5 linked regions of the Homo sapiens genome follow. The protein of the gene in region 1 purifies or fractionates together with the protein of each later gene. This does not show direct contact. Each region holds a gene or a part of one and is shown in the gene's direction. Other genes may lie near its edges. The genes, in order: CXXC4, TIA1, RCVRN, PUS7 and ZNFX1.

Region 1 (6,065 bases):
AACTCACCTAATGCTATGCTGTTGCATTCAATGGGAATTACTTGAGAAGAAGTTGAATTGTTGAACTTTTATACACACATATATATTCATATATATATACACACACATATTTATTTAGAGTCTATAACCATATATATTTATACATATATATACATGCAAATGAAATATGAACATATGACTATATAAATAAAATAATTTCAATCATTCTTGAAAGTATAGTATTGATTTTATTAACCCAATTTTTACTTTTTAAATCTTAATTTTACTTCTAATTTTCTTTCACATTCTCTCTTACACATAAGGTTAAGTATATAACATTGCTTTGATAAATACCTTTTAAATTTGTGAATTATTGAAAGATTTTCCTCTTTCTGCTTACCATGGTACCACCGTACTATGTTTTATTTTTATATGGGTAAGAACATTTTAACCACTAAAATACCCACTTATAATACACTAAATTTACTTATTTGTTAGAATGGTGTGGTTTGAAGTATTTTTACGAAATTTAACTGAAATATAATTATATACGCATAGCATTATCAAGAGACTTGCTTAACTAAAGTAGTTATATTAGACCTATGGCCAAAATGGGTACATTTTTTGGTCACTTCTGGACCAGTGTGAATCGTGGTGTTAATCTGTCATTTTACCTCCCACCAACCCACTCCCACCGTGTACACACATTCTCCTTTGGACAGCTGTTTTCATGACAGGCTTTATCACCATATGGACTTGACTTAGTGCCTTTACAACATAATGTATAAAGTCATCTTTCCATTTGCAGAAGTTAGCTAGGTTTACCTTCTAAAGTCACACCGTCACAGTCTAAAATCATGCTGTCACAGTGGTGATGGTAACTGTGGTGGTTGCAGTGTAGGAGTGCAAGGCAAAGAGAGCAACAGGAGCAACAGCCAAGGGAGAATCAATTATCAATGAAAAGGCCATCTCTAGTTCTCCATCATTAATCGGAGAAATCTTGGTCACAAATGTCAATTTGGAAACCAAAATATGGAATGTTTCTTAAAATCATATTTAAAGCCTCCAAAAGTTATGTCATAAAAATTACCTAGTTATTTGGTGCTTTCCCCTTTTTAAATAGGGGTCTAATATTCCAGTTAGTGGATGATGTTGAAAGTTGTTTTTAATTTATATTTGGATAAAGACCAAAATAAGGTGTGATTATACCAAAGACATACAGTTATGTAATAAATGAATCTGGATTATTAGAAAAATTAATCTGCTATACATTACAGACATAATATGGATTTATTACAACAGAGCAGAAGAAAAAAGTGAGGTGTAATTTAAAAAATGGAAACAAGTATATACTTATATTACTCCAAATATTTTTAAATTTAGATATTATTAATAAAATGTTTTGTTTATAATAGCAATAAATTATTGGACTGTGTGATAATCATTAATAGTTCTCTTATATTATTAGCCTATACTTTACTAGTGTTTTCTAATAACTCTATTATAGTTACTAGACTATGATTTCTAAAACCTATCATTTACAAAAGGAATATAGAAAAATCTTTCTGCTAAAAACTTGTGGGGGAGGTGTTCACCTTTGCTAGGTATTATTTTATATCATAATTATTAATTATTCAAAGATTCATATTACTATGTATTAATTTGTGTCAATCAGTTTGTTCACATTCACAATACTGTATACGTAATACAGTTTCCAATTTCTCCAAGTAGATTTTGAAATTTTGTTAGTAACATAATCAAGAACCTATATAACAATGTTTTAGCATTCTTCGTGAATCAAATCAGAAAAAAAAGGTAGTTTTTTTCACCATCAGCAACCTGCTTGCATTTGTTAATCCGGAAATTTCTAAAGTTTGAAAGTTTTATATGTAGCCACAAACAAAATCTATATAATTGAATAACTGAAGGCAAACAGTGGGGTCCATTATTATGTTTTGTCATATTTATTCACTTACTTTCTACTGCAAATTTTCAGTGATTCATTAAGATCTTTGCATTCTAGTGTGAAATGATAGACTTGAATGCAGTGGAGGTTTCCAGTATCAAGGCCTTAGATGCCGAGGAGTCTAAGAAACTTACAGTGGGACTCCTCATAGTGAAAACAATATTTCAAAAGGTTATACAGTAGGTGGTATTGGCTAACTACAGCCTGAAATTGCCTTAAGTTTGGTTGGGAAGAAAGCATGCTTCACGATTATATGGGAATCATAAAATGATTTCATGACTTTTGTTTCTTTAATAATAAATGGGAAAACAGGAAATTATTTTTGATTAGTATAGAAATAATGGTATCCCCAAATAGTGACCTTCAGTTGGAAATCATGAGAGCCATTTTGTTTCACAGTAGAATTTTGAAGGCCTAGGTGAGTCACTGAAATTTTTAGATTCGAAAGTATATGAATAAATATTGGAAAGATAGGTTTAACTTTAGTTATAGACATTTCTAGTATCATAATCATGATCTCAATTTAAAATTGTATTTAAGGTGAATTTCAGCATCAAAAGTTTTCATTAATTTCCTCTTTGAAACCTCAGGTCTAATATTATTAAAAGTTTTAAGTGCAGTTTTGTAAATATTGCTACATTTTACACACTGTACTTAGATATGAATGGCCAATCCACATATCCTCATATGTACAGAGTTAGAGATGCCCCATTTTCAGCTTTTAGGAGCTGATGTTTTATTAGACTTGACGTATTTCTAACAAGAATATGTAGATGCATTCTTCACCTGAAGATACCACTTTCCGTGTGACTGCTTCGCAGGTATGAGAAGAGAAACATGCTAAAATCCTTAAGGTGAAAGCTTTTCATATTCTTTATTATTTTAGGTTGTTTAATTATTTCATCACTGCAGATTTAATGAAAATCAAACTGAAATATATATATATCTGCCAGGAACATTATTAAATTTTAAATTTTTTTAAAAAGTAAATATAAAATGTACTTGGACTTAGGTTTTATCATTCTTTTATTCAAGGAAATTCCCTTAGTTTTAATGTAATTTAGGGAGAAACAGAAGACTCCTTTAGACTTGAAGATAGTGTTGTACCTGGTTTGTGTAGGGGTGAATTCTCTGGAACACTGTGCTTTACAGCAGTACCAGAAAGAGAACTGGGGCTGCAGGTTTCTCCACAGGCCTCCTGGGAGCAAGACGGCTGTTTGTCAGCGTTTGCACCTGCATGAACAGTGAAGGCTGCCTTAAACAATGCCGATCAACTCAATTCTATTCTTTACCTCCCCACCCCCTTCTCTTCAGGGGAATCTGGCTTTCCTGTCACTCAGGATAAAGATCCCCTGCAAGCATCACTGAGATCCAGAAAGTCACTGTAATCTCATCAAGAGTGTGAATCCCTAGCTGGGACTTTGAATTTATACAACCCAAAGGTGGCTGGTCAGGGTATTTAATCCCGCACATTGGTGTGCTGAGCCCCCGCACCATTTAAAAAGAAGTCTTCTTACAAGGATAACCTCATTAGTTGACAGAATGAAAAAATATGTGTCCTCAAATTAGTACAAACTTAGTTAGAAACCTGTAGTTTAACTCAATATTTTATCTATTAAAACATTGTTGCTTCACCCAGCTTGGCTGAAACAAACTCAATCAGTCCTAAAGTACATTTCCATTGTTCCTGATGAAAATTGGGCAGGAGATTAGATATACATCTATTTTGGGTAGGCTACAGGACCCTAAAGAGTTTTGACACTTTTAAAATCCTGAAATACAAATTTCTGGTGTGTGCCTTGATTATTTTCTAATTACTGCACCAGTAGTTTTCCTAATTTTTCTCACATATTTTATTTGGTGATTTCCCAACTAATCATTTTTAGGCTTCTTGACCTCAAGGATCTTAATATAAGGAAGAAATAATTTTTAAAAGAGGCTTCCCTGCTTACCTTCTCACTTCTCCTGCAATAAACTGTCCATATTCTTACATCTGGGGATGCATACTGGTCTCAATGTATGCATAGTAAAATCACGATGCACAGTAATATCAAGTAAGTGTAGAAAACCTTTTTTCTGCTTTTCTCGTGTTTGCATTGTTTAATTAATTTGTACTGCTAACAGGTATTGAGAAGTGATTATCTTTTTTTCCCACAACAATGACCTTTGACACTAAGTGGCATTTTATAAGCTTGCTTTTTCTAAATGTTGCAAATAAAATTGAGTAGCTGAAAGGGGCACAGGAAGAGCGAGAATTGGAAAAGAGATTTAAAAGTATATCTAAGACATAAGGACTTCATCTCATTTAAAAAATGTACTCCATATATTTTTGCTGTTTATCTTCGTAAACATATATGTTTATCAAGATACAAGATTACATAAGTATATATTTATAATCTTGTTTCCAGTTGGCATCTGAGAGTAAGTTGGCATCTCTGTGTCATACATATACACATAAATGTGAATATATATGAATATATATGCACATGTTTATTTTTCGTATGTGAATCTGTAACCATAGATCTATAATTGCATGAATATGCTTGGATCTAACTTATCTCGTTAGAAGTGACTACATTTATATAAGTGTGCATACTTATATAAAATTTATTCTTAGTTGGCATCAGCCAGTAAGTTAGCATCTGGTATAAACTTTTAAGTTTTCATTTATTGCTTTTGTGTGTGTATAAAGCATGAATATTAGAATGGGCATGTTCTATTTCTTATTACGTCATGTAGCTTCTTAATAATGATTAAATTAATGTAATCAATGTGTATAATTATTACATTTATCCAAAAGTTAATTTTAGAAAGTAGTAAAGAAGTTTTTCTCACCAATTAAATCAAATGATAGAGATTCAGGTATGCATAGTGAGCTGGAAAGGAGAAAACCAATGAAACCATCTTATAACAGGTTAATAAGATCAGTACAATTTCCATGAGAATAGTGAACTTTTTTGTTTGTGCTTTTAGAAAGCGCTGCTCAGGCAGATTTTGTTCTGTATACCTATATGCAGACTTGGAGTAGGAAGATAGTCATTTATCAATGATTTGTTCTCAACACAGTCATTTTGAAATTTATTGTGTTTGTGATGAGGACAGTCTTTTAAAAAATTATTTTAGTACAGATAGCGAAAAGCATGTTTGCTTTCCAAAATATTTATTTTATTGTTTTCTAGTTGACATCCTAATCAATTAATACTTTTATTATTAGATGACATAATTACAATAGGACAATGTCCACCAAATAACACGTGTGAGAAAGTAAATAAGAGCTAACCTCAATTATTAGAGGGTTTTTAGCAGAATTTTGTGTTTATTTTCTGAAATCCAAAAATCAAGTGCTATTAATGTTTTAAGATGCATTACAAGTAATGTGTGTGTATGTATGTGCTCTTGTGTTTTTGTTTACCTAGTAAATATATTGGCACTTACATTCAACACATCAATTTATATACTTATTTATCCTTAGCAGCCATCTTACGATTTATACAGGCTTGTTGGGCTAGTCTAAGGAATAAAGTCAACTTTCTTTTGCAGGAGAATGTATTCTTAGCTTGTTGTTTCTTGCATACCTTCACTGTATATTCATGTGATTGTTTTATGTATATCATTAGAATACATTTTAAGGAAGGATATGGCATGAGGAATTATTAGATGTTAATGTACATAGAAAATTCAAGCTTAACTACCATTTACCTAACAAGAAAACCTCATAGTAACTATAAGCTTTTTGTTAAAATGATTGCTTATACTTTGGTGCTAGCTTGATACTTCTTTGGAGAAACCATTTATAGTATGTTTACAATTCAATAGGGTAGTTATGCTTCATTGAATATCATTGGTTAGTAATCAATTTACTTTATATATATATTTGTTGAAAATACAAACTCACTTTGAAACAGTGATATATTTTATGAGTATGGTTCTCACTAGACTATAAAATGTGTTTAGAATTTAATGATAAGTGTTGCAGGTAATATTGATATTTGTTATTATTCTGTCAGAAAATCTGCAGAATAAATTACTTAACTGAATTTTGAACATCAGCTTTACATAATTGGATATGTATATATATATATATTGTGATTTCTATACATAAAACAGTGACCTAAATTTC
Region 2 (6,065 bases), on another chromosome or scaffold:
CAGCAGCCTATGTTAGTATTTTCCATGGTGGATTGTACATGGTAAATAACAAAATATTTGCTGAATTACTCAAGCTTGGATGCTAATGGAAAAGAATGAAAGGAAAAAAAATAATATGGGTACTTTAGGTAGGAAAGGTTAATTGAATGATAACAGACACATAAAGATTAGGATTTGTCAACATTATTTGCCTAAATGTAGGTCAGAAGATTAAGTGTTGAAACTTGACCAGAGCTGGTATCTCCTTCAGTGTTTCATCTTAAACAGATATCTTCCTATGTGTTTATAGATACAAATGTGATTTTGGGCTTTATTTTTGTGAAGTATAAATGTAGAAATTTTTTTTTTTTAGGAAGTCAAAGTGAATTGGGCAACAACCCCTAGCAGTCAAAAGAAAGATACAAGCAGTAAGTATATTTTATGCTCTTTGAACATTTGTTTTTATTGTACCCAGTAGTTTTATTGTAAAGCCTATAAACATCATACATGTTTGCAGTAATGTTTTGATCGTTATCCTAAGATATGATTGAATGTGTTTGTGTTAATAAATTTAAGAACAAATCTAATCTTTGTCATCAGGTAGTACCGTTGTCAGCACACAGCGTTCACAAGGTAATTGTATCTTCTTAAACATAAAATGAAATCTCTTGAAAGGGTATTCACTAACCACCTGAAGTTTTTTTGTTTGATATTTGGGGGAGGGGGGCGGGAGGAGATATTATTTCTATTTGTCTCTCTAGCAATACTTTTCTCCCTTCTCAGTGTTGACCAAGTATAACTTGTCCGCTACTTTGGTGCTAGTTCAAGCTTTCTGACCCGTTTGGTAGCAGCTGATGCCTTAGAACTACTTTCACCAACTAAGGGGCAAAATACCCTCCTTTCTTGAGGTCACCATTTGGGCTTCATACCCAGATCTTCCAAATGCTTGAGTTGCTCCTCAAATTTTGTTTCCCAAAGAGCAATCCAAAATGTTGTTTAAGGCCTGTCAAATATGGGTAACTTTTCTTTCCAAATATGCTTTGTCAAATTGATGTATGTGTCCATTTTAAAGTGTTGGTCCAACAATTTTGCATTTTTAAAGTGTTTCTTTTTTTGATAATTGTCTTTTTTAAAAACTTCAGATATGGGTTGGTTATTTCTCTCCAATGCTTTTTTAATGGTTCTGATATAAAGTGAAGGGATTACTGTTTTCATTCTGTTGCCTTCAGTCTTAGTTCACTTGCACATGGATTCACATAAACTGAATGGTGTAATGTCTGGGCAACCAAAACTGTTGGCTTTTGAGAAAACTGTCAAATACTTTAACATCAAACTGTTGCAATGCAAGGTATTTCTTTGATTGTTCTTCACAAAATATGGTTAAACCAAGTATATATCATGTAGCTAGCTTCAGTAAATTGTGTTAACTGAGGCAAATCTAGTCTACATAATTCACAGTACCACTATTTTATTTTAATTTGTAAAGCCTTAATATAGTGGTAAACTGAATAAAAGTAAATAATTATTATTAGAATGGTAACTAAGTCATTAAATTTTTTTGCAGAACTGAAACTTGTATGTTATTAGTTTATTTTCTTAGACCAGTGTAATAATTGACTGTAAATAGAAATATAAATGTCACTTTACAGTTAGATGTATCACAGTCGTTTCAGGAGAATTTTTCCTATATTGTTACCTTGATTCATTGTTTAAAATTGGTAGGATTTGTATAGATATAGGATAGTGTTTTATTTATACTTTATCATAAGCCATAATCATTTTAAGAATACTTTATTGGATAGATTTTAGTACTTTTTAAATTCTAAAGTTCTATTTTTCTTTTCACTTCCCCTTCCTTCCCCTTATAAGATCATTTCCATGTCTTTGTTGGTGATCTCAGCCCAGAAATTACAACTGAAGATATAAAAGCTGCTTTTGCACCATTTGGAAGAATATCGTAAGTAACAGAAGATAAATAAAATCCTTTTAATTAGAAACAATTATATGTAGACATAACTTGAAAATAATTCTGTTGTGAATTTTGTACATTAATTTTATAACTTGAATATAATGTATTACATTGTTTAGAGATCATTCAAGAAGTTAACAGCAAAAGATTGTTTTCCCATTGATGAATAAACCTTTGGTTTTCAATTATCTTAAAATCCTTTTTCAATTAGCATAGCTCTTAAGAGACAAATTTGCCATTGTACATGTTTTACTTTCTTATATAGGTATCAAGCTAGCTTGGTGACAATCTTTAGTAAAATTGTGCTGTAACTAAGGAATTTAGATCTGTTGGGTACTTCTATGATACCATGCATTTTGTGTTAATATATTTTAACAAAAAGAAACCTTAACAATTCAACTTAAAAAGCAGTTATTGAATATTATTTTCTAGATATTTACACCCTTTTAAAAAAACTGCTAACAATAATAGTGCCTTAATAATATTTTATGAAGCACTGCCTTGCTTGCACTTGTTATTAGTCATACATTTTAGGCCCTTATGAATAAATACCTTACTTGAGATAGCATTCATCATAGAAGAACTTTAAAATTTTGAAAAGCATGCCATATTAGAGTAAGAATAACAAGTTGTTTACAGTACTTTCTGTAGAGTAATTAGCTTAGAAAACTTCTTCAGGGTTTCTGCTTGCTCTGTTATTTTTCCACCTAGAAGAATAGTAAAAAGGAAGTGCTAGCTGTGGTTTGGTTTGAACAGACCAACAGCAGAGATGAGATGAGGAGACTGGAAAGTAAATGCCAGTAGTATTGGTGAATTTTAGGAGCTTTCGTTTGAAGAGTTATCGTTCCTTGATTAGGGGATGTGACCAAGGAATTACCAACTTTAAAGGTGGTCACAGAATTAGGGCTTATAAATGGACTTCTTTCAGATGACATTTTTCTTTGTGAGACCTGATCAGGAAAATAAGTACAGCTTTCATTTCTTGATTGTCCTTCTTAATAATATCTTAGAGTTTCAATAATAATTAGCTTGCTTTCGAATATCTGGACTTAGACAGTCTTAGCCTTTGGCCTCTCAAGGGCTCTAAATCTCTATGCACAATTTTGTGTTTTCATTTTGGTGTGGAAAATCTTTGTAAATTTTATCCTATTGTCAGAGTAGTCATAGAACCATAAAAGGATAAAGAAGCCTGATCTAGATCTTTGCTGCTGCTTCAGAGAATCTTTTCAGAGAGAAATAAATGAGTTGAATATTTTTCAAGACTAACATTTTCTGAAACTTTAAGAAGAAAAAATTTTCTAACATTGTGAACAGATTAAGTAGCTATTTTATTAAATGCTTTGATTTTAATTGAGGTAGTTTTTTTGAAAACACGGGAATTTTAGTTTGGAATTAGGCAAAGATTGTTTAACAGTTGGTGAGTTTAAGTTAAGTGACCTTCAGATTTTAGCAATTTCATGATTTACAAATCGTGGGTTATATTTTTTTCTCTTAAATATATTTCTGTGTCATATTTTTAGTCTGTAGATTTTCTTATGGTCCCATGATTATTGGTGTATACTTTTTTTTTCTTGGTAAGACCTTTAAGTTTTATGATTTTCAATTGAGATAATGTATAATGTTTGAGTTTTAGGCTATATAAGGAATTAGCTTTCCTGCATTTAAAGGAATCATTTGGCAGTCAGTAGCATATTTTCCTGATTTTTTGTTGTTGTTAAAGGAGATAAGTTGATAACTGTATGTTGAAGGGTTCTCATGATATTCTCTAAAAAGTGCAAATATCAGTGCTTGATTTATAGATGTGTAATAAACAGTGGTCTGTAAAAGCATGTAGTATAAAAAATATGGTATTTTCCCTTATATACAGCCTATAAACTCTTCCTATTCCTTGAGTTTAGGGTAGACTAACAAATTACAGCGTAGAAGAGAGTCAGCTACCAGATTAAATGCATGCGTACCATACAGATAATTTATTAAGTATTTTTGCATATTGAACATTGACTTACATTAATTTTCCCTTTTCACCACCACGTCTTTGTCATTTTGACCCTGAACACTTAATAAATCACTCAGATTGATCTAAAATATGCTTATGTATACTTTAATAGAAAATTACATTGCATGGCTTTCTGACTTGGGTTTTTGTTATAAAAGTGCCTGTTTTGTTCATGTGTCCTGAGAGAGCAAGCATTGTGACATACCTGACTAACTTAAAAGCAGATTGCCTGTGAAGCACAATTTGAGTCCAATTTTTTGAGGTATGGAGTTTTAGCTATCATGGCTGGGTTTTTACTCAATCTCAAATAATAGGGCTCTGGTTATTTTGCAGAGTGTCTCTGAAGAATGGACAGAATTGCCCTGGCTAACTACAAGCTACGGTTCACAGTGGATAAATGTTGGCGTGCTTTTTTACTTTCTGACTTTTTAAAATTTTGCTTTTATATCTTGTAGTTCCAATCAATTTTATATGAATGCTATTATAAAATTCAGTGTAAAATCTTTTCTTGTCTAGCTTAAAACTTGTGTGTGTCTAGTATTTTTCTTCAATGATTTAACATTTCTGAAAATGTCAAGTTCTCAAAATTTAGACAAAAAGGGGGGTATAAATTGATCTGAAAAAATTAAATAGTTTAATTAGTTTAGGGAATATACAACTTTTTCATTCTTTTGGTTTCCAGTTTTCTATTTTTTTTTAATGATTAGGTAGAATATAGTGTCAAATAAGTTATAAATTGCATGGTTAAAGAAAGCCATTCATCTAATGTCCTGTGAACTTTATAAGTGGTTAAGTAGTTCATGTGAGTAGCTGCTTTCACCATGCTTAATATTTAAAAGTTTAAAAAGTTTTTTGAAGAGAGAGGCAATTTCTGTACAATATAAATATACATATATACTTAAGTTATTGATTTGCATGTCTATAAAATTAAGCCTCATTTCCTAATACATGATAAATTTTGTAGAATAAAAGGTGAATTTGCATTAAAGGTTCACTTTAATGAAGGTGAAACATGAGAATGAGTTGTGTGTGAAATTCTTATTTGATATCCAGAGGATAGTTTGCAAACCTAAACTTCTGATTGTTTCTGATTTCAGAGATGCCCGAGTGGTAAAAGACATGGCAACAGGAAAGTCTAAGGGATATGGCTTTGTCTCCTTTTTCAACAAATGGGTGAGCTCAGTGAGAAGTGCATGGATAATGCTTAAAGAGTAAAGAATGGAAACACTCCGTTTTAATTACTAATCTTTTTTTCGTCTGCTGTTTATTTTACTGATGATTAAAATAAACCCTCACTAGAAGATTTCTTCTGTTTTGTCTGTTTAACATTTATTGGCACCTGAGGCATGCAGAGTACTGATAAGATGTTTTCAGAATGTAGAAAGTAAAGTTGTTTAAATTATCAGCCAAAGGTAGATGTTGAAAATCTCATTTATGGATTTAATTCATTATCTCCCTAGTTTATATTCCCATGGTAGTTTAAAAGTAGCTAATAAAATACTGTGAGGAGGCCGGACGCAGTGGCTCACACCTGTAATCCCAACACTTTGGGAGGCTGAGGCGGGTGGATCACCTGAGGTCAGGACTTTGAGAACAGCCAGGTCAACCTGGTGAAACCCTGTTTCTACTAAAAATACAAAAATTATCCGGGCGTGGTGGCAGGCGCCTGTAGTCCCAGCTACTCGGGAAGCTGAGGCAGGAGGATCACTTGAACCCAGGAGGCACAGGTTGCAGTGAGCCGAGATCATGCCACAGCACAGCCTGGGCGACAGAGTGAGACCCTGTCTCAAAAAATAAATAAATAAATAAAAATACTGTGATGGATAGGAACTTTTTAAAAAATTAAATATTACCCGGGCACAGTGGTTTATGCCTATAACCTCAGCACTTTGGGAGGCTGAGAAGTTTGAGATAAATACTGGCAATATAGTGGGACCCTATCTCTACAAAATATATATATTTTTTATTTTACTTTTTTTTTAATTTTTTTTTTTCCGGGAATTCCGAAAATTCAGCCGAGCCCAGTGGCTCACACCTGTAATCCCAGCACTTTGGGATGCCAAGGTGGGCGGATCACTTGAGGTCAGGAGTTCAAGACCAACCTGGACAACATGGCAAAAC
Region 3 (5,791 bases), on another chromosome or scaffold:
CCTCAGTGCCCCTGTCAGTCTTGGTGCCCCTGCCCTGTCAGTCAGTGGCTGGAAGCAGCCCCCAGGAAGTGTGATCCTGCACTGTAGGCAGTGATGGACTCCAGCACTCGGCTGCTGGGGCTGTGTGTCTGTGATGCTTACGGCCAGCACAAGGATGCGGTAAAGGAGCTGGTATTAGGCTGGGGCTGCAAACACATATGGCTGGAGGGGCAGGAATGATGAAAACGAGTTATGTGGACAGTCATCTACAAGCAGTGGGGATTGGCAAACAGCAGAGGGTGCACCTCTGGTCTGATGGCTTCCAGCATATTCCATGTGGGGCTATGGAACCCGTGGTTGAGACATCATCTGATTTTTTTTTAAGAGAAGCCAGCCATGAAGACTTTAAAAATCCAGTGTGTCTCAACTGATAAAACACAGCATGGCCCAAACACATCCAAGGGTCCTGTATTAACCCCTTTGGTGACCTCTGGAGGCAGTCTTCTGCCAAGGTTCAAGAAGAAAAAGCTGAGCAGGATGCTAAATAAGGGCAGAGAGAGATGACCCTGCTCCTCCTAATCTGCCAACAAATGATGAAATAAGAGAAGCATGAAGGTCATTGGGGTAGGAGGAACATAGGACACAGAATTTAAGGAGGCGCTCGTTCTCAGGGGTCAACAATGCACTCACAGGACCTGAAAGTGAGCGCCTCCTTAAATTCGCGCCTTGGTACTTTACCCACCTTTCCCTCATCGGCCCGGATTGGCCCCTCACCTTTGAGCACTCTCTCCTCCTTGCACAGACACTGGCTACCAAGATGCCTTCTTTTGGCACTTTGCCCCACTGGCTCCTTAACTGGCTTCGCGACCTCCCTCTGGGTCCGTTCATGTGTCGAGCCCTGTGTTCTGCTTTTTGCTCATCTGAAAACCTCCCTGGTGAACATCCCGGGAGGGGATGACGTCAGAAGCCCCGAGGTCGACGTGTTACTCCTGTTCGTGATGTGTTGTACGTGTTTCCACGCGGCCCATCTGGAGACAATGCCTCAGGGCAGAGTCAGGCTTTGATGGTGGGAGTTTCAAGCTCTCTGTGAGCTCTCTGTGGGGTGGCTGGGATGTTAAAACCCAAATTTTACCACCCAGACTTGCGGAGGAAGCCATCCTGGATCCTAACCCAGAAGGGATTAAAGGTATCCAAAAGGCCCAGAGCATAAGTCAGAAATCACATTCAGTTCAGCAAAGCTTTGTTGAGCACCGACTCTGTGCTAGGCACTGTGAACATACAACAGAAAGGAGCATCTGTCTCATGCTAGAGGTATTTCTGCGTGTGACTGCCTTCCCCGCCAGGTCAACAGTTTCCCAGGGAGGGACTTCATCTCACTCTCTTCTATTGTACACCCCGCCTCCGCTCCCTGTGGTGGCCTTGGCTCCAAGCACAGTGGCATCTGGGCTCAGGACCATGCATTTAACTGGACTGATCTGAATACAGTTAGCCACCTGATTAAAAACACCGGAAAACCAGGTGTGGGCGCAACAAGGCTGTCTCTCAGTCCTGATCCCAAATAAGGAGGCAGATGAGACTGGGGGACGCAGGGATGGATGCATAGGAAGGGATCATGGCGGAGTTGTCAGCCAGGAATCATGGGGCTGCCTGTGTGCTGCAGGTGCCAAAGAGACCTCTCTGCAAGCCACACTCCCCCTGGCATGATCTCATTGGGCCCTTCACTTCTCACTCCTATTTCTGGAGGGATGTTGTTCCCTGCTTCTCAGCTGAGACTCTGGGCCTGACATCCAGATTGTTTTGCTATGCTCAGACCCCCAGAAGCTCCTCCTGAACTTGATCCTTGAAACTTGAGCTACTATAGAAAATAGAATAACAATTAATAGTTATTAATTATTGAAGTATTTAATAACCAGCAAGGCAGGGGCACCGGCCAATCGGAAGAGACACATAGCACAAGACTGGCATCTTGGGGGCCCCCCCAGTGCCAGTCATTCACCGCTCTTTGCTGGTCTGCAGGGAGCTCCAAGGGTCATGGGAAAGGAGGTGGGTATCTGGACTGGGGTGGGGGAATATTGAATACTCAGGGCCACTGAGTATTCAATATTCTTATAATAGATACATTCACACTGGGGATACTGGCTAGATGTCAGCCTCATCGCAGCTCACTTGGCTATCAATCCTGACTGTTTTATGTACGTATATATTTTTTCCCAATGCACAGATAAACTTACAGAGAAAGAATTCATTGAGGGGACACTGGCCAATAAGGAAATTCTGCGACTGATCCAGTTTGAGCCTCAAAAAGTGAAGGAAAAGATGAAGAACGCCTGATGCCAACTGTTCAGCTGTCCTCCCTCCACCTACCACTCACATGACACCCGTGAGCGCCTGTGCACACACACACACATGCACACACACGCGCGCGCACACACACACACACACATCCACCCCAGGGCCAAGAGAAAGGCCTGCACACAAGCCCACAGCACAGCTCCCTGCCAAACTGAAGCATCTGTAGTGACCCACTGGTTCCTTCTTCCTGGGTCTTCAGCATTCCCTCCCATCATGCCCGGTCCCACCCCTCCCTCTGTCCACCAGCCCATGGCCCTGTGCTAATCCCAGGATTAGGCCATAGGAGTCCTAAGTGTCACCCCGCTGTAAGCTCCTTTGTGGAGTGCTGGGTAAGCAGTTTCCAATAAACGCAAGCTGAGCTGGGCACGTGGCTGCTGGTCATCCTTCAACTGGAAAAGGAAATGATTTCTATCAGTCACACCTCAAAGACAAGGCTGTGTTGCGATGGCAGCCCTAGGCTGGGCTGCTTTGGTGCGGAATGAGTCTAATGCGGTCCTGCTGTCATGGAGCTCATGGTCCAGAGGGGACAATGAACCTGGAAGGAGCCATGACCAGTGGCCCAGGTTACCATGGAAACGTGCAGAGCACCAGGGGAGGACACAGTGGAAGGGGCTGACTTGTCAGGGGGGATCAGGGACCACATCCCTGACGAAGGGAGATTTAAATTCAGAACCACTGCACACGAGGCGGGGGACGGGGTCGGGGTGGGGAAGTCTCAAACAGAAGGCGGCCAACACAGAGCCGCTGAGGCATGAATGACCATCTCGAGTTCCAGGAGAAGGTCGGGGTGGCTGGAGGGTAGAAGGAGGAGGGAGAGCAAAGTGTGAGCTGAATCTAAAAGGTAGGCGGGGGCTGGACCACGCAAAGCCCTCCCTGCAGCCTGTGGTAAGCACTTGGGGGCTCACCATGGGGACAGCGGTGCCACTGTGGAGTTGGAAGTAGGAGGGGTTTATGTTTGTAAGAGAAGTCCCCAGCAGGCTAAAATAAGTCAGAGAGGAGCAACTGGGGGCTCCCTGGAGTCAGGGAGCCCGATGAATAAGCTTTTGCAGCCACTCAGATGGCCTGGGCCAGGGGAAAGGCAATGGGATGGAGAGGACCAGATCCAGTGAGGACACATTTAGGAGGTAGCATCCACCTGGCTGGCTGAGGGGGCAGGAGGAGAGAGGGCAGGAATGGCAGCCAGGCCTGTAGCTTGGGCAGTGGGTGAATAGCAATGCCATCTATGGAGATGAGAAATACAGAGAGTCTTTGGGGTTTCAGGGAACAATGATGAATTCAGCTTCAATATAGTATGAGGTGAAGGCAGAGCCATAGATGGCCCTAAAGCCCCTTGTTTTAGAGACAAGGAAAAGGAGTCCCAATGACAGGAAGCAGCTTGCCCAAGGGCAGCCAGCTGATGAGCAGAGGTCAGGCAAGGGCTACCCACCGGCCCCCAACTGCCTCCTCAAAGCTCCAGGGCCTGGGATACCCAGGAACTCCATCAGTGCATTCTCCAAGATCCCTGGATTTGTTGCTTTGAAGGCCCATTTATTCTCCAGCCTCAAGTTCCAAGATGAGGTCAGAAAAATGCATGGATACCCTGGATTCTTGACTGACCTGTCTGCAACCTCTTGAGGCTGAGGAGTCTCTAGTTGCTGGTATTGTGGTGATGCCTCCAGACCCCACTTTAGCCACAGAGATGACACAATCACCACTGCCAAAGAGCACTCCTCTGTGTGGAGAGCAAACGTGAGAATAAACACTTATGAACCGTGCACCATGCTAGACTCTGCCATCATTATTTCATTGATGGAGATGTTATTATCTGCACAATACAGATGAGGATACTGAGGGCAGGAAGTGTGAGTAGGAGTTGGTACTTAAACTGGAGTCCCTTTGATTACACCAGATTTCTCCAATAGTTTTGACCTGGACACAGCAGGATAGAGAACTCTAGGATTGCACAATGTCAGAGATGGAAAGGGGAAGGAGGCTACAAGGCATGAGTCCAGAGGTTCTGGGAGGAGAAGGATTATTACTAGAATCATCTACCCAAGGCATTCTCCCATGTAGACATAGTGGGCTATATAGAAGCCAGTTCAGTGGGAGATAAAAGACTCTGTGGGTCCAGTCCAGAGTGTTCTAGGAATATAACCAAAGGGCTCAATGCTCTTTCCACCACACTCCATGAATGAATCTGGTTGCTTCGAGGATGAGGCTGGGGGCTTTTCACTTCTCTCTGAGGTCAGTCTATCATTGTCACTTGAGTCTAAAAGGACAGACACTGCATAATTAGGTCCTTGCTGGTTTGTGGTTCAATGGGAGAGCCAAAGAGTGAAAACCTAATTAGTGCCTCTTTTTTTAGCTTAGGGTGGAAGGACCACTTGGGCTGAGATTCTCTACAGCTGTATGACACTTTGTGGAAAATAAAGCATGAAGTTCAACTTGGCCACAGGGAAGAGGAGGTGGAGATAGTGATGAGCTATGTCATCAAGACTCTTCCAGATGCAAAAGGTAGATGACCTGGCACAAATTATTGTGGCACAAATAGAAATTGCTTGGCTCTTATAGCTGAAATTCTAGGAGTAGGGCTAGCTTCAGGTATGGCTTAATCCAGGGGCTCCAACAATGTCCCAGAGTTCATTTCTCCCTCTCCTGGTTCTGGTTTCTGCTGTCACCACCATTCTCAGACAGGTTCTTCCCATGCTGGCAGGACGGTCACCAGCAGATCCAGGCTGCCTTCTTCATGGTTCCAATTTCAGCAGAAAAGAGAAAATGCTTTCTCTTAAGAGTCCCAGCCAAAGTGTCAGGATTGCATCTCACTGTCTCTGGTTAGTTATATGCCCATGCCTGACTCAATATCTGATGCCAGAAGGATGTACTGCTCTGCTTGGCCAGCAGATTTTTATGCCCATCCTTGAACTGAGGATAGAGTCAGGACAACTCAAGTTCCGTGGACTGACAGTAGGAGATGAGTGGTTTTTCCAAGAGGAAAATTGGGGTACTATAAGAAGGGCAGATTCTAAAAATAGATGTCTACTATAGAGACCTTGGGGAAGTCATTTCCTGTCTCTAGATCCCTGACTCCTCAAGTACATGTAAATTCAAGGGCAGAAATGGGTCTCATTAAGAGCAATAATCCAAACTGCCTGAGCTTCTGTTGCCACCTGCCCACATAAGATCCCAGCCCCTTGTGCAGTGTCTCTTGGGCATTTTTAGCATCTCCAGGAGGTGTCCCACACAGATTCACCCATAGATCCCTTAGTGCCAGGTGCCATTGCTGCCCTCAAGTACTACGTTCCTAATCACAGGCGAGGCCACAGTGCTCCTAATGTACCCAAGCTGTGTGCTGATCTGCTGAGGAGCCTTCTAGGTTAGAGTCTATCAGAACAGCCCCATGGGAAGTAGCATGTGTCACGGAAACAGCTTTTGTCATTGCCTCCTGGAAACAGCTCTCCTAGCTTTTGTCTGAAGCTTCTCT
Region 4 (6,065 bases), on another chromosome or scaffold:
GCGTGATCATCGCTCACTGCAGCCTTGAACTCCTGGGCTCAAGCAATCCTCTCACCTCAGCCTCCCAAGTAGCTGGGACTATAGGCATGTGCCACCACACAGGGTCTCGCTGTGTTGCCCAGCCTGGCCTCAAACTCCTGACCTTAAGCAATCCTCCTGCTTTGACCTCCCAAAGTGCTGGAATTACAGGCTTGAGCAACCACACTCGGCCTTGAACATATCTTTGTTTTTTGATTTATTTTTTTTAGACGGAGTCTCACTCCATCACCCAGGCTGGAGTGCAATGGCACGATCTTGGCTCACTGCAACCTCAGCCTCCTGGGTTCAAGCGATTCTCCTGCCTCAGCCTCCGGAGTAGCTGGGATTACATGTGCACGCCACCATGCCCAGCTAATTTTTGTATTTTTATTTATTTATTTATTTATTTATTTATTTATTTATTTATTTTGAGACAGTCTCGCTCTGTCGCCCACATGTATTGCAGAGGCAGCACCTCCATCCACTCGTTAAGCATTCACCCAGCTTGAGGGCTGGAGATGTATTGCAGTGGCGCGATCTCGGCTCACTGCAGGCTCCGCCTCCCGGGTTCACGCCATTCTCCTGCCTCAGCCTCCCGAGTAGCTGGGACTACAGGCGCCCGCCACCACGCCCGGCTAATTTTTTATATTTTTAGTAGAGGCGGGGTTTCACTGTGTTAGCCAGGATGGTCTCGATTTCCTGACCTCATGATCTGCCCGCCTCTGCCTCCCAAAGTGCTGGGATTACAGGCGTGAGCCACCGCGCCCCGCCTAATTTTTGTATTTTTAGTAGAGACGGGGTTTCACCATGTTGGCCAGGCTGGTCTTGAACTTCAGACTTCAGGTGATCCACCCGCCTCAGCCTTCCGAAGTGCTGGGATTACAGGCGTGTGCCATCACACCCGGCCTTGAACGTGTCTTTTGATAGAGGCAGGGGCATGCATGTACTGTATTAATGAAGCAGCGTTTTTCCTTACCTAGGAGAGAGAGAGAACAATCCAGCTGGTCATACTGTCGACTAAGTTTGCTCCGGTTTCAGGTCCTTTACACGTGCTGTTCGGGCTGCCTGGAGCTCTCCTCACACACATCTTTTCCTGTCTGGTTCTTCCTTGTCTTTGCTCAGAAGTCTCCTCCTTAGACGAGGCATCACTGAAGAACACCCCTCTTACTCTCAGCCCCTTACCCTGTTTTAATTCTTTGGAGCTCGCATGTCCTGAGATTTATTTTGTTCTCAGATATATTCTCAAATACATTGTAAGCTACATGAGGACAGGAAATGGTATTACCCTTTTCTTCCAGTACCTACAACAATGCCAGACACATAGGACACTTGCTCAGTAAATATTTGCAGAATGAATGACCCTCATAGACTTAATGATTTTGCATATTAGAATGCAGTGTGTCTGCCGGGCCTGGTGACATCATGCCTGTAATCCCAGCACTCTGGGAGGCCGAGGCAGGCAGCTCGTTTGAGGTCAGGTCAGTAGTTTGAGACCATCCTGGCCAACATGGCGAAACCCCCTCTCTACTAAAAATACAAAAATTAGCTGGATGTGGTAATTTTAGCCCATGCCTGTAATCCCAGCTACTCGGGAGGCTGAGGTAGGAGAATCGCCGGAACGCTGGAAGTGGAGATTGCGGTGAGCCGAGACTGCACCACTGCACTCCAGCCTGGGCAACAGAGGAAAACTCCATCTCCAAAAAAAAAAAAATTAGTGTGTTCTCTGTGCTCTGGCCCTAAAGAAAATGCTCACTATTGTGAGAGCTATAGAGATTACTGATAATTTGCAGGGGATGGAGGAAAGATGTATTTACAAAGTGAAAGTTGTGGATAGTTTTGAAATATAATATGATAGAATTAAGACTAATGGCTGTTTTTGTAGGCTGGGCGCGGTGGCTCAGGCCTGTAATCCCAGCCCTTTGGGAGACCGAGGCGGGCGAATCATGAGGTCAGGAGTTCGAGACAATCTTGGATAACACGGTGAAAGCCCATCTCTATTAAAAATACAAAAAATTAGCCTGGTGTTGTGGCGGGCGCCTGTAATCCCAGCTACTCAGGAGGCTGAGGCAGGAGAATCTCGTGTACCCGGGAGGCAGAGGTTGCAGTGAGCCGAGATTGCGCCACTGCACTCCAGCCTGGGCAATAGAGTGAGACTCCGTCTCAAAAAATATACAAAATAAAATAAAAAATAATTCAAAAAAAGACTAATGGCTGTTTTTCTGATGTTTATTTTGGAGGAATTAATTAATAAGGGACTGTTTGGCCTGGGCGGTGGTGCACACCTGTAATCCCAGTTGAGGCAGGGCAGATCACTTGAGCTCAGGAGTTTGAGACTAGTGGGCAACATGGCAAAACCCTGTCTCTACAAAAAATACAAAAATTAACTGGGCATGGTGGCACATGCCTGTAGTCCCAGTTACTCGGGTGGCTGAAGTGGGAGGATCGCTTGAGCTGGGAGGTCGAGGCTGCATTGAACTGAGATCACGCCACTGCACTCCAGCCTGGGTGACAGAGTGAGACACTGTCTCAAAAAATAAATAAATAAACAAACAAGAGACTGTTGTTAGTGTTATATTAAAATTTTGAAAATGCTAAACTTAATTTTTGTTATAGGTGTAAAGGATTTTATTTTTTTTTTGAGACAGGGTCTTTCTGTCACCCAGGCTGAAGTGTAGTGGCACCATCACGGCTTACTGCAGCCTCAACGTCCTGGGCGCAGTGGATCTTCCCACCTCAGCCTCACAAGTAGCTGGGACTACAGGTGCATGCCACCTTGCCCGGCTTATTTTTATTTATTTTTTGAGACAGAGTCTCCCTCTGTCACCCAGGCTGGAGTGCAGTGGCGCAATCTCGGCTCACTGCGACTTCTGTCTCCCCAGTTCAAGCGATTCTCCTGTCTCAGCCTCCTGAGTAGCTGGGATTACAGGGCCACACCACCATGCATGGCTAATTTTTGGATTTTTAGTAGAAATGGGGTTTCGCCATGCTGGCCAGGCTGATTTCGAACTTTTGACCTTGTGATCTGCCCACCTCGGACTCCGAAAGTGCTGGGATTACAGGCATGAGACACCACACCCAGCTGCCTGGCTAATTTTTTAATTTTTTGCAGAGACATGGTCCCACTATGTTGTCCATGCTGGTCTCAAACTCCTGGTCTCAAGCCATCTACCTGCCTGCATTTTTTCAGAGATGAAGTCTCCCTCTGTTGCCCAGACTGGAGTGCAGTGGTGTGATCATAACTTACTGCAGCCTTAAACTGGTCTCACACAATCCTCCTGCCTCAGCCGCCCTGTTAGCTGGGACTACATGCACACATGCCCAGCTAAGAGTACTTCTTAAAGCTTAGTTGGTGAATCTAGTATTTTAATGAAAAGGGTTTTAAAATACTGTTAAAATTATAATATTTCTATTCTCAGTTGTCTCATTTGGAGTGCAGAGGAAACAAAAAACATTATTTTAGCATTCCCTCCAAAGAAATGTGAAGGATTGGCCAGGCGTGGTGGCTCATGCCTGTGATCCCAGCACTTTGGGAGGCCGAGGCAGGCAGATCACCTGAGGTCAGGAGTTCAAGACCAGCCTGGCCAACATGGTGAAAACCCGTCTCTACTAAAAATACAAAAATTAGCCAGGCGTGTTGGCGCATGCCTGTATGTACTCTCAGCTACTTGGGAGGCTGAGGCGGGAGGATCACTTGAACCCAGGAGGTGGAGGTTGCAGTGAGCAGAGATCACACCACTGTACTCCAGCCTGGGTAACAGGGTAAGACTCCATCGCCAAAAAAAGAAATGTGAAGGATTTTAAGTTTTGGGGAAAGTATCAGAGGAGTTCATTCTCTTCCTGGTTTAACATCAGGCTTCTGGTCTATGGGGTTTTACTTGACAATTAAGATACCATCATTACTATCATGGATAGTGTATTTGTGCAGCATGTTTTCTTAAAATTTTTTCTTTTAAATATGTCAAAAAATGCATAAAACTGCCCTCTCCCCCCTTTTCACATCTAGTAACTTTATATCTTCATTCAAGATAGAATGCTTGGGCTTTCCTGACTGCAAAACTGATTTCCTTGGGCCTCTCACCTTGGGGTAGTCAGGCTTGTTTTCTCTTTGCAATTTAATTCTCTCAGGCCTCTTCTATGTTCATAAGATCACCTCTCTCTCCTCTCCCCAACCCTCAATTTAAAAATTATATTCCAGTCCGGGCGCACTGGCTCACGCCTGTAATCCCAGGAACTTTGGGAGGTCGAGGTGGATGGATCACCTGAGATCAGGAGTTCGAGACCAGCCTGACCAACATGGTGAAACTCCGTCTCTACTAAAAACACAAAAATTAGCTGGGCGTGGTAGCGGGCGTCTGTAATTCCAGCTACTCAGGAAGCTGAGGCAGGAGAATCACTTGAACCCGGGAGGTGGAGGTTGCTGTGAGCCGAGATCAGCCAAGATCACGCCATTGCACTCCAGCCTGGGCAACAAGAGCAAAACTCCGTCTCAAAAAAAAAAAAATTCCATTTCAGCTTCCCTTTCACGTAGTTCCTGCTTGCGAAAATGACACTAGTTTGAGTTTTGCCTTTCCTAGTCCAGAGCTCTGAACAGTTCTTCTAGTAAATATGCTCTCCGCTTTTAGGCCTATAGGACAGAACTTAGAAAAATATATATTAAGTGATTTAAAAATCATTGGTACTATATATACTTTAATAATTAATTTGGGCCGGGTGCGGTGGCTCATGCCTGTAATCCCAGCACTTTGGGAGGCCAATGTGGGTGGATCACTTGAGGCCAGGAGTTTCAGACCAGCCTGGCCAACCTGGTAAAACCTGGTATCTACTAAAAATACTAAAATTAGGCCAGGCGTGGTGGCTCACGCCTGTAATCCCAGCACTTTACAAGTTTGAGGTGGGCGGATCACCAGGTCAGGAGTTTGAGACCAGCCTGACCAACATGGTGAAACCCCGTCTCTAGTAAAAATACAAAAAATTAGCTGGGCTTGGTGGCACGCGCCTGTAATCCCAGCTACTCAGGAGGCTGAGGCAGGAGAATCGTTTGAACCCAGGAAGCAGAGGTTGCAGTGAGCCAAGAACATGCCACTGCACTCCAGCCTGGGCAACAGAGTGAGACTCTGTCTCAAAATAAATAAATAAATAAATAAATAAATAAATAAAATAAAATAAAATACAAAACTTAGTCGGGCCCAGCTACTCAGGAGGCTGAGGCGTGAGAATTGCTTGAACTCAGGAGTTGGAGGTTGCAGTGAGCCGAGATTGTGCCACTGCACTCCAGCCTGGGTGACAGCAAGACTCTGTGTCAAAAAAAAATTAATTTGTCTATGATAGGGCCATTGACTTAAACAATGAAAAATGTAATTTCATTTGAAATTTAAAAGTGAGTTTAGTTTATTCTTGTCTTTTCAGTTAGATATATCAAGAAAAAGAGATCAGACAAATGTCCACAAATATCAAGAAAAAGACTGGCAACCTAAAGGCCTGTTGTCAACCTAAAATAATCAAAAACGTCAGAATCTAGTACAAAGAGAAATTATTCAAGTGCAAAGTTTGAGGATGTCCCACCTGGAAACACCAGTTCTAAAAAAATGGAGTCAAAGTTCTGAAGTAGGGAAGTTTAGGTTTTATATAGGCAGAGACAGGAGTTTTTAGCAGGATTACAACATTTTTCGTACAGGGTTTTCACATAGTTACAGCAATTTGATTGGTTATAGGCAGTGTTTCTTTTTGGGGAGAGTACATTGGGGAAGGTGTAATAGTTATGGGTTTTCTGTCATACGGTTTAAGCATAAGCAGGACACCAAAGGGAAAGTTCCTCTCTAACAAGGGTCATTAATTAAGAATTTTTAGTCATTGTAGGCCAGGCGCGGTGGCTCACGCCTGTAATCCCAGCACTTTGGGAGGCCAAGGCGGGCAGATCACGAGGTCAGGAGATCGAGACCATCCTGGCTGACACAGTGTAACCCAGTCTCAACTAAAAATACAAAAAATTAGCTAGGCGTGGTGGCGGGCGCCTGTAGTCCCAGCTACTCGGGAGGAGGCTGAGGCAG
Region 5 (6,065 bases), on another chromosome or scaffold:
TCTTTTTGTTGGGCATTTTGGATTCTTAGGTCCCTGAATGTATCTCTCTGTTTGTCACTATGCTCCAAGGGTCCAAGGTTCACTTCATACACTGGGCACACTGAAGGGCGTTCTTCCACCTTCTCAAAGAGCATGTGGCTTTCTTTCCTTGGTTCTTCCCATTCTCCAGGCTCTGGCTACAGTTGTACCAGGCTGACACCCGCCGGAAGATCCTCAGCTATGAACGCCAGTACCGCACATCAGCAGAAAGAATGGCCGAGCTGAGACTCCAGGAAGACCTGCACATTCTTAAAGATGCCCAGGTTGTAGGAATGACAACCACAGGTAAGAAACTGTGGAGAAATTTGCCTGTTGCATCTAAGTTCACTTCTGGTGCCAGATTATCTAAGGACAGGTAAAGAGGAGCTTCTTTGGTAGGTTAGAGGAAAATACCATGAAAAGCTACTGAAAGCACCCATATTTTGAGAACTCTTGGTGAAATTCACTCACTTTCGCCAGGCGCAGTGGCTCACGCCTATAATCCCAACACTTTGGGAGGCCAAGGCAGGTGGATCACCTGAGGTCATAAGTTTGCAATCAGCCTGGCCAACATGGTGAAATCTCATCTCTACTAAAAATACAAAAATTAGCTGGGTGTAGTGGTGGGTGCCTGTAATCCTGGCTACTCGGGAGGCTGGGGCACAAGAATCACTTGAACCTGGGAGGTGGAGGTTGCAGTCAGCTGAGATCGCACCACTGCACTCCAGCCTGGGTGACAGAGTGAGACTGTCTCAAAGAAAAAAAAAAAAAGAAAAAAGAAATTCACTCACTTTCTCCTGCTGGGTTTGAAACTCCAACAGTGACCAACACAGTTTTAATGTTCTGGAGACCACCCAGAACACTATAAGGACCAGCTGTCGCTGATGCAGGTTCAGGGAAGATACAGAAGTGGATTCCCAGAGGCCCAGTGGCCCTGTGGGTCCTGTGCCTCAGCTCAGAGGAGCCTTTCTCTTCTTTCCTCACTTGAGGTGCTGCCAAATACCGCCAGATCCTACAGAAGGTGGAGCCGAGGATTGTCATAGTGGAAGAAGCTGCGGAAGTCCTTGAGGCCCATACCATTGCCACATTGAGCAAAGCTTGCCAGCACCTCATTTTGATTGGGGACCACCAGCAGGTAAAACGAGAGTCCCCCTAGAAGATGGGCTGGCTCTCCGTGGGGGTGAGATCATAAAGGAAGACCCTGGCCTCTGCTTCAACAGTCCTCAAGCTTATTAGTAGCTTCTTGTGATTCCTCTTGTCTTCACCTCCCACGTTCAGTCTAAGAGCAGATGCTATTAGATTTGGGGTATATTTTAGTGGCAACGTCATTTATTTCATCCATTCCCTCTGCTATTTACCTAGTCCACCATGGCCTCTTGAGTGGACTGTATTGTAATAGCATGCTCCTCAGTCTCTCTGCTTCCATTTTTGCTACCTTTTAATGCACTCTACATAAAGGAGCCAAAGTGAATTTTTTTAAAAAAAAGGTAGATAGATAATATCACTTTCCAGCTGAAAACCCTCCAGTGGTGTCCCATTGCACTTGCATAAAAATCAAGCTTCTTAAAGTGGCCCACAAAGGCTTATGTGATCAGGTTTCAGCTTATTTCTCTGACTTCATCCCATTTGCTCTTGGTGTCCCACTGTGTCCTTTCCGCTCCCCATTATGGATCTTGCTTTTCAAATGACTGAAGAACTGGCAACTTCTGCCATGCTAGTGTCTACTCAGATGTCACTGTTCAGAGGCCTAGCTAGAAAAAACCCACCATGGGGCACTCTGTCATATCACCTTTAGTTCTACTAATCCTTAACCCTTGTCATTATTAATCCTTAAACTGTGAGTATGTAGAATAGTGCCTGGCACATAGTCAACACTTGAAAAACATTTGATGGTTGGTTGGATGGATGGAAGTATGGATGGTTAAATGACTTTATCAGTAGAGAATCCTCAGCCATGTTTCTCTTCTCAGCTGCGCCCCAGTGCCAACGTGTATGATCTGGCCAAGAACTTCAACCTTGAGGTGTCCCTTTTTGAACGGCTAGTGAAAGTAAACATTCCCTTTGTCCGTCTGAATTACCAGGTGAGAAGCTGGGCCTCTGTTGTTACCAAATGCCCAGGAGAAAGCTCCTGGGAAGCTGCCAGTTGCCAGCAAAAGAGGTCTCATATAAATAAAAATAATTTAATACTGAAATGACTCTGTCAACCTTACATTTTCTGTTTTAAAACACCACAAGATCACCGTGTTGAGTTTTTGTTGGACAAAGGAGCTGTTTATGTTATGCTTTCTCCTTATTTTTTTCAAATGATAATCTCTATCTCTCTAGATTTTCTTTCCTTTTTTTTTTTAAGAAAAATAGAGGCCAGGTGCGGTGGCTCACACCTGCAATCCCAGCACTTTGGGAGGCCAAGGTGGGCAGATCACCTGAGGTCAGGAGTTCGAGACCAGCCTGGCCAACATGGTGAAAGCCTGTCTCTACTAAAAATGCAAAAATTAGCCGGGCATGGTGGTGGGCACCTGTAATCCCAGCTACTCAGGAGGCTGAGGCAGGAGAATTGCTTGAACCTGGGAGGCGGTGGTTGCAGTGAGCCGAGATCATGCCACTGTACTCCAGCCTGGCAATAGAGCTAGATTCTGTCTCAGAAAAAAAAAAAAGAAAAGAAAAATAGAGGCCAGGTGTGGTGGCTCACACCTTAATCCTAGCACTTTGGGAGGCCAAGGCGGGCGGATCCCTTGAGTTCAGGAGCTCGTGACCAGCCTCGCCAACATGGCGAAACACTGTCTCTGCTAAAAATACAAAAAATTAGCCAGGCGTGGTGCCTCATGCCTGTAGTCCCAGCTACTTTTGGAAGGCTGAGGCAGGAGAATCACTAGAACCTGGGAGGCAGAGGTTGCAATGAGCTGAGATTGCGCCACTGCACCCCAGCCTTGGTGACACGTCTCAAAAAAAAAAAAAAAAGAAAGAAAAATAGAGATGAGGGCTCACTATGTTGCCAGGCTGGTCTTGAAATCCTGACCTGAAGTGATCCTCCTGCCTTGGCTTCCCAAAGTGATGGGATTACAGATACAAGCCATCACAACTGGCCCTCCCTAAATTTTCTAACAGCAACCTTATCTTTAAAGAAATTGTCCGTGTGTGCTCTGCCCATGTTTCTAATGACATGCATGTGTTTTTTCAGCACCGTATGTGCCCTGAAATTGCCCGCCTTTTGACCCCCCACATTTACCAGGATCTGGAGAATCATCCATCTGTTCTTAAGTATGAGAAGATTAAGGTGAGTCTGTCTTACCCGATCTTTCTTGGATGGTGTCAGCAACCTAAAAAGGCTATAATTTCCTCAAGATAAAAAAGCTTTTCAGCGGCCAGGCGCGGTGGCTCACACCTGTAATCCCAGCACTTTGGGAAGCTGAGGTGGGCAGATCACTTGAGGTCAGAGTTCGAGACCAGCCTAACTAACATGGTGAAACCCTGTCTCTACTAAAATACAAAAACTAGCTGAGCATGGTGGCAAGCACCTGTAATCCCAGCTACTCAGAAGGCTGAGGTGGGAGAATTGCTTGAACCCAGGAGGTGGAGGTTGCAGTGAGCTGAGATCGTGCCATGCTACTGCACTCCAGGCTGGGCAGCGGAGAGAGACTCCCTGTCAAAAAAAAAAAGAAAGCCTTCAGAAGGGAGTAGAGCCAGCTTTTTAAAAGCTGGTTACTGGGAGAAAATTGAAATACAGACCAGGGTTTTTTAATCCCAATTCTGCCTGTTAGCCATGTAACCTTAAGCAAGTTATATAAGAATTCTGGCCAGGCGCGGTGGCTTACGCCTGTAATCCCAGAGCTTTGTGAGGCCGAGGCGGGCGAATCACAAGGTCAAGGGATCAAGACCATCCTGGCCAACATGGTGAAATCCCATCTCTACTAAAAATACAAAAATTAGCTGGGTGCGGTGGCATGTGCCTGGCTGGGTGTGGTGGCTCATGCCTATAATCTCAGCACTTTCGGAGGCCAAGATGGGTGGATCACCTGAGGTCAGGAGTTGGAGACTAGCCTGGCCAACATGGTGAAACCCCGTCTCTACTAAAAATACAAAAATTAACTGGGCATGGTGGTGGGCGCCTGTAATCCCAGCTACTTGGGAGGCTGAGGCGAGAGGATCGCTTGAACCTGGGAAGTGGAGGTTGTGGTGAGCCAACAAGACCGTGCCACTGTACTTCAGCCTACGCAACAAGAGTGAACTCTGTCTCAAAAAAAAAAAATTGTCAGCTGAGGCCAAGAGTTCAAAACCAGGCTGGGGCACATAGCAAGACTGTCTCTTTTTTTAAAATAAATAAATAAATTCTGAGTATCAGGTTCTTCTGGACAATAAGAATAATGGCTCCTGCCATATCCCATTACTGTATGGAAGGAGGTAATGTATATAAAGCAGTCAGCACAGTGGAGTGCTCAGTAAGTTAGCTGCTCTGTCATTATCATCATCCTCCTCACAGCACTGCTTGTTCTTTCAGCTATAATGGTTGGATTGTGGATGGCTGTTTTATTTTCTATTTTTTTTGAGATGGAGTCTCACTCTGTCTGTCACCCAGGCTGGAGTGCAGTGGCATGATCTCGGCTCACTGCAATCTCTGCATCCTGGGTTCAAACTATTCTCCCATCTCAGCCTCCTGAATAGCTGGGATTATAGGCGCCCACTACCACGCCCAGCTAATTTTTGTATTTTTAGTAGAGACGGGGTTTCACCATGTGGGCCAGGCTGGTCTCAAACTCCTGACCTCAGGTGATCCACCCACCTCGGCCTCTCAAAGTGCTGGGATTACAGACGTGAGCCACTGTACCCAGCCAGCTTTTTTAAATATTAACATCAAACAAGTATCTTGAAAACTGAAAGAGACATAATCTTTTATTTTCATAACTTGCTGTGGCCCCAAAATGAAGCACACAATGACTAACTAAAGAACTAAAGATAGTGATGTTGAGTGGACAAAAAGCTTTCCAAGGTCTCTCTCTGGAGCAGAGTAAGTGGCCAGTGCATGTCAAGAGAGGAAGAAAAAAACAAGTGCCATGAGTGAACCTTTTAACATGTCACTTCTTTTCCCTGTCAGGGGGTGTCTTCCAACCTTTTCTTTGTAGAACACAACTTTCCTGAACAGGAAATCCAAGAGGGCAAAAGCCATCAGAACCAGCATGAGGCTCACTTTGTGGTAGAGCTGTGCAAGTACTTCCTGTGCCAGGAATACCTGCCTTCCCAGATCACCATCCTCACTACCTATACCGGGCAGCTCTTCTGCCTGCGCAAACTGATGCCTGCCAAGACATTTGCTGGCGTCAGGGTCCATGTTGTGGACAAATACCAAGGGGAAGAGAATGACATCATCCTCCTCTCGCTAGTGCGGAGCAACCAAGAAGGCAAGGTGGGTTTTCTGCAGATATCCAACCGCATCTGTGTGGCCTTGTCCCGAGCCAAGAAGGGAATGTACTGCATCGGAAACATGCAGATGCTGGCCAAGGTGCCCCTGTGGAGCAAGATCATTCATACACTTCGAGAGAACAATCAAATAGGCCCCATGCTCCGGCTCTGCTGCCAGAACCACCCTGAAACCCACACCTTAGTATCCAAAGCTTCTGACTTCCAAAAAGTACCCGAAGGAGGCTGCAGCCTGCCCTGCGAGTTCCGCCTGGGCTGTGGGCATGTCTGCACCCGTGCCTGCCACCCTTATGACTCTTCACACAAGGAGTTCCAATGCATGAAGCCATGCCAGAAGGTCATCTGTCAGGAAGGGCACCGGTGTCCCCTTGTTTGCTTCCAGGAGTGTCAGCCTTGTCAGGTGAAGGTGCCCAAAACCATTCCTCGGTGCGGCCATGAACAAATGGTCCCTTGTTCCGTGCCTGAGTCAGATTTCTGCTGCCAGGAGCCTTGCTCCAAGTCTCTGAGATGTGGGCACAGATGCAGCCACCCATGTGGTGAGGACTGTGTGCAGCTGTGTTCAGAAATGGTCACCATAAAACTCAAGTGTGGGCACAGTCAACCGGTAAAATGTGGTCATGTGGAAGGCCTCCTGT

The links.
Region 2: the proteins of CXXC4 (region 1) and TIA1 purify together in Homo sapiens (affinity purification with mass spectrometry, with the first as the bait; one large-scale study listed by BioGRID). This does not show direct contact.
Region 3: the proteins of CXXC4 (region 1) and RCVRN purify together in Homo sapiens (affinity purification with mass spectrometry, with the first as the bait; one large-scale study listed by BioGRID). This does not show direct contact.
Region 4: the proteins of CXXC4 (region 1) and PUS7 purify together in Homo sapiens (affinity purification with mass spectrometry, with the first as the bait; one large-scale study listed by BioGRID). This does not show direct contact.
Region 5: the proteins of CXXC4 (region 1) and ZNFX1 purify together in Homo sapiens (affinity purification with mass spectrometry, with the first as the bait; one large-scale study listed by BioGRID). This does not show direct contact.

Annotation. Positions count from the first base shown.
Region 1 is NC_000004.12:104,473,022-104,479,086, reverse strand, and holds part of CXXC4 (CXXC-type zinc finger protein 4), read left to right. Parts: intron 1-6,065.
Region 2 is NC_000002.12:70,223,606-70,229,670, reverse strand, and holds part of TIA1 (cytotoxic granule associated RNA binding protein TIA1), read left to right. Parts: intron 1-352; coding exon 353-407; intron 408-469; exon of another isoform or gene 470-579; coding exon 580-612; exon of another isoform or gene 613-1,208; coding exon of another isoform or gene 1,209-1,327; exon of another isoform or gene 1,328-1,848; coding exon 1,849-1,936; exon of another isoform or gene 1,937-4,277; coding exon of another isoform or gene 4,278-4,314; exon of another isoform or gene 4,315-4,943; coding exon of another isoform or gene 4,944-5,041; coding exon 5,042-5,117; coding exon of another isoform or gene 5,118-5,159; exon of another isoform or gene 5,160-5,247; intron 5,248-6,065. UniProt on the Homo sapiens protein: RNA-binding protein involved in the regulation of alternative pre-RNA splicing and mRNA translation by binding to uridine-rich (U-rich) RNA sequences.
Region 3 is NC_000017.11:9,894,614-9,900,404, reverse strand, and holds the end of RCVRN (recoverin), read left to right. Parts: intron 1-2,200; coding exon 2,201-2,310; 3' UTR 2,311-4,085; downstream 4,086-5,791. UniProt on the Homo sapiens protein: Acts as a calcium sensor and regulates phototransduction of cone and rod photoreceptor cells. Modulates light sensitivity of cone photoreceptor in dark and dim conditions.
Region 4 is NC_000007.14:105,514,902-105,520,966, reverse strand, and holds part of PUS7 (pseudouridylate synthase 7 homolog), read left to right. Parts: intron 1-6,065. UniProt on the Homo sapiens protein: Pseudouridylate synthase that catalyzes pseudouridylation of RNAs.
Region 5 is NC_000020.11:49,248,754-49,254,818, reverse strand, and holds part of ZNFX1 (NFX1-type zinc finger-containing protein 1), read left to right. Parts: intron 1-169; coding exon 170-324; intron 325-1,007; coding exon 1,008-1,153; intron 1,154-1,988; coding exon 1,989-2,099; intron 2,100-3,196; coding exon 3,197-3,292; intron 3,293-5,107; coding exon 5,108-6,065.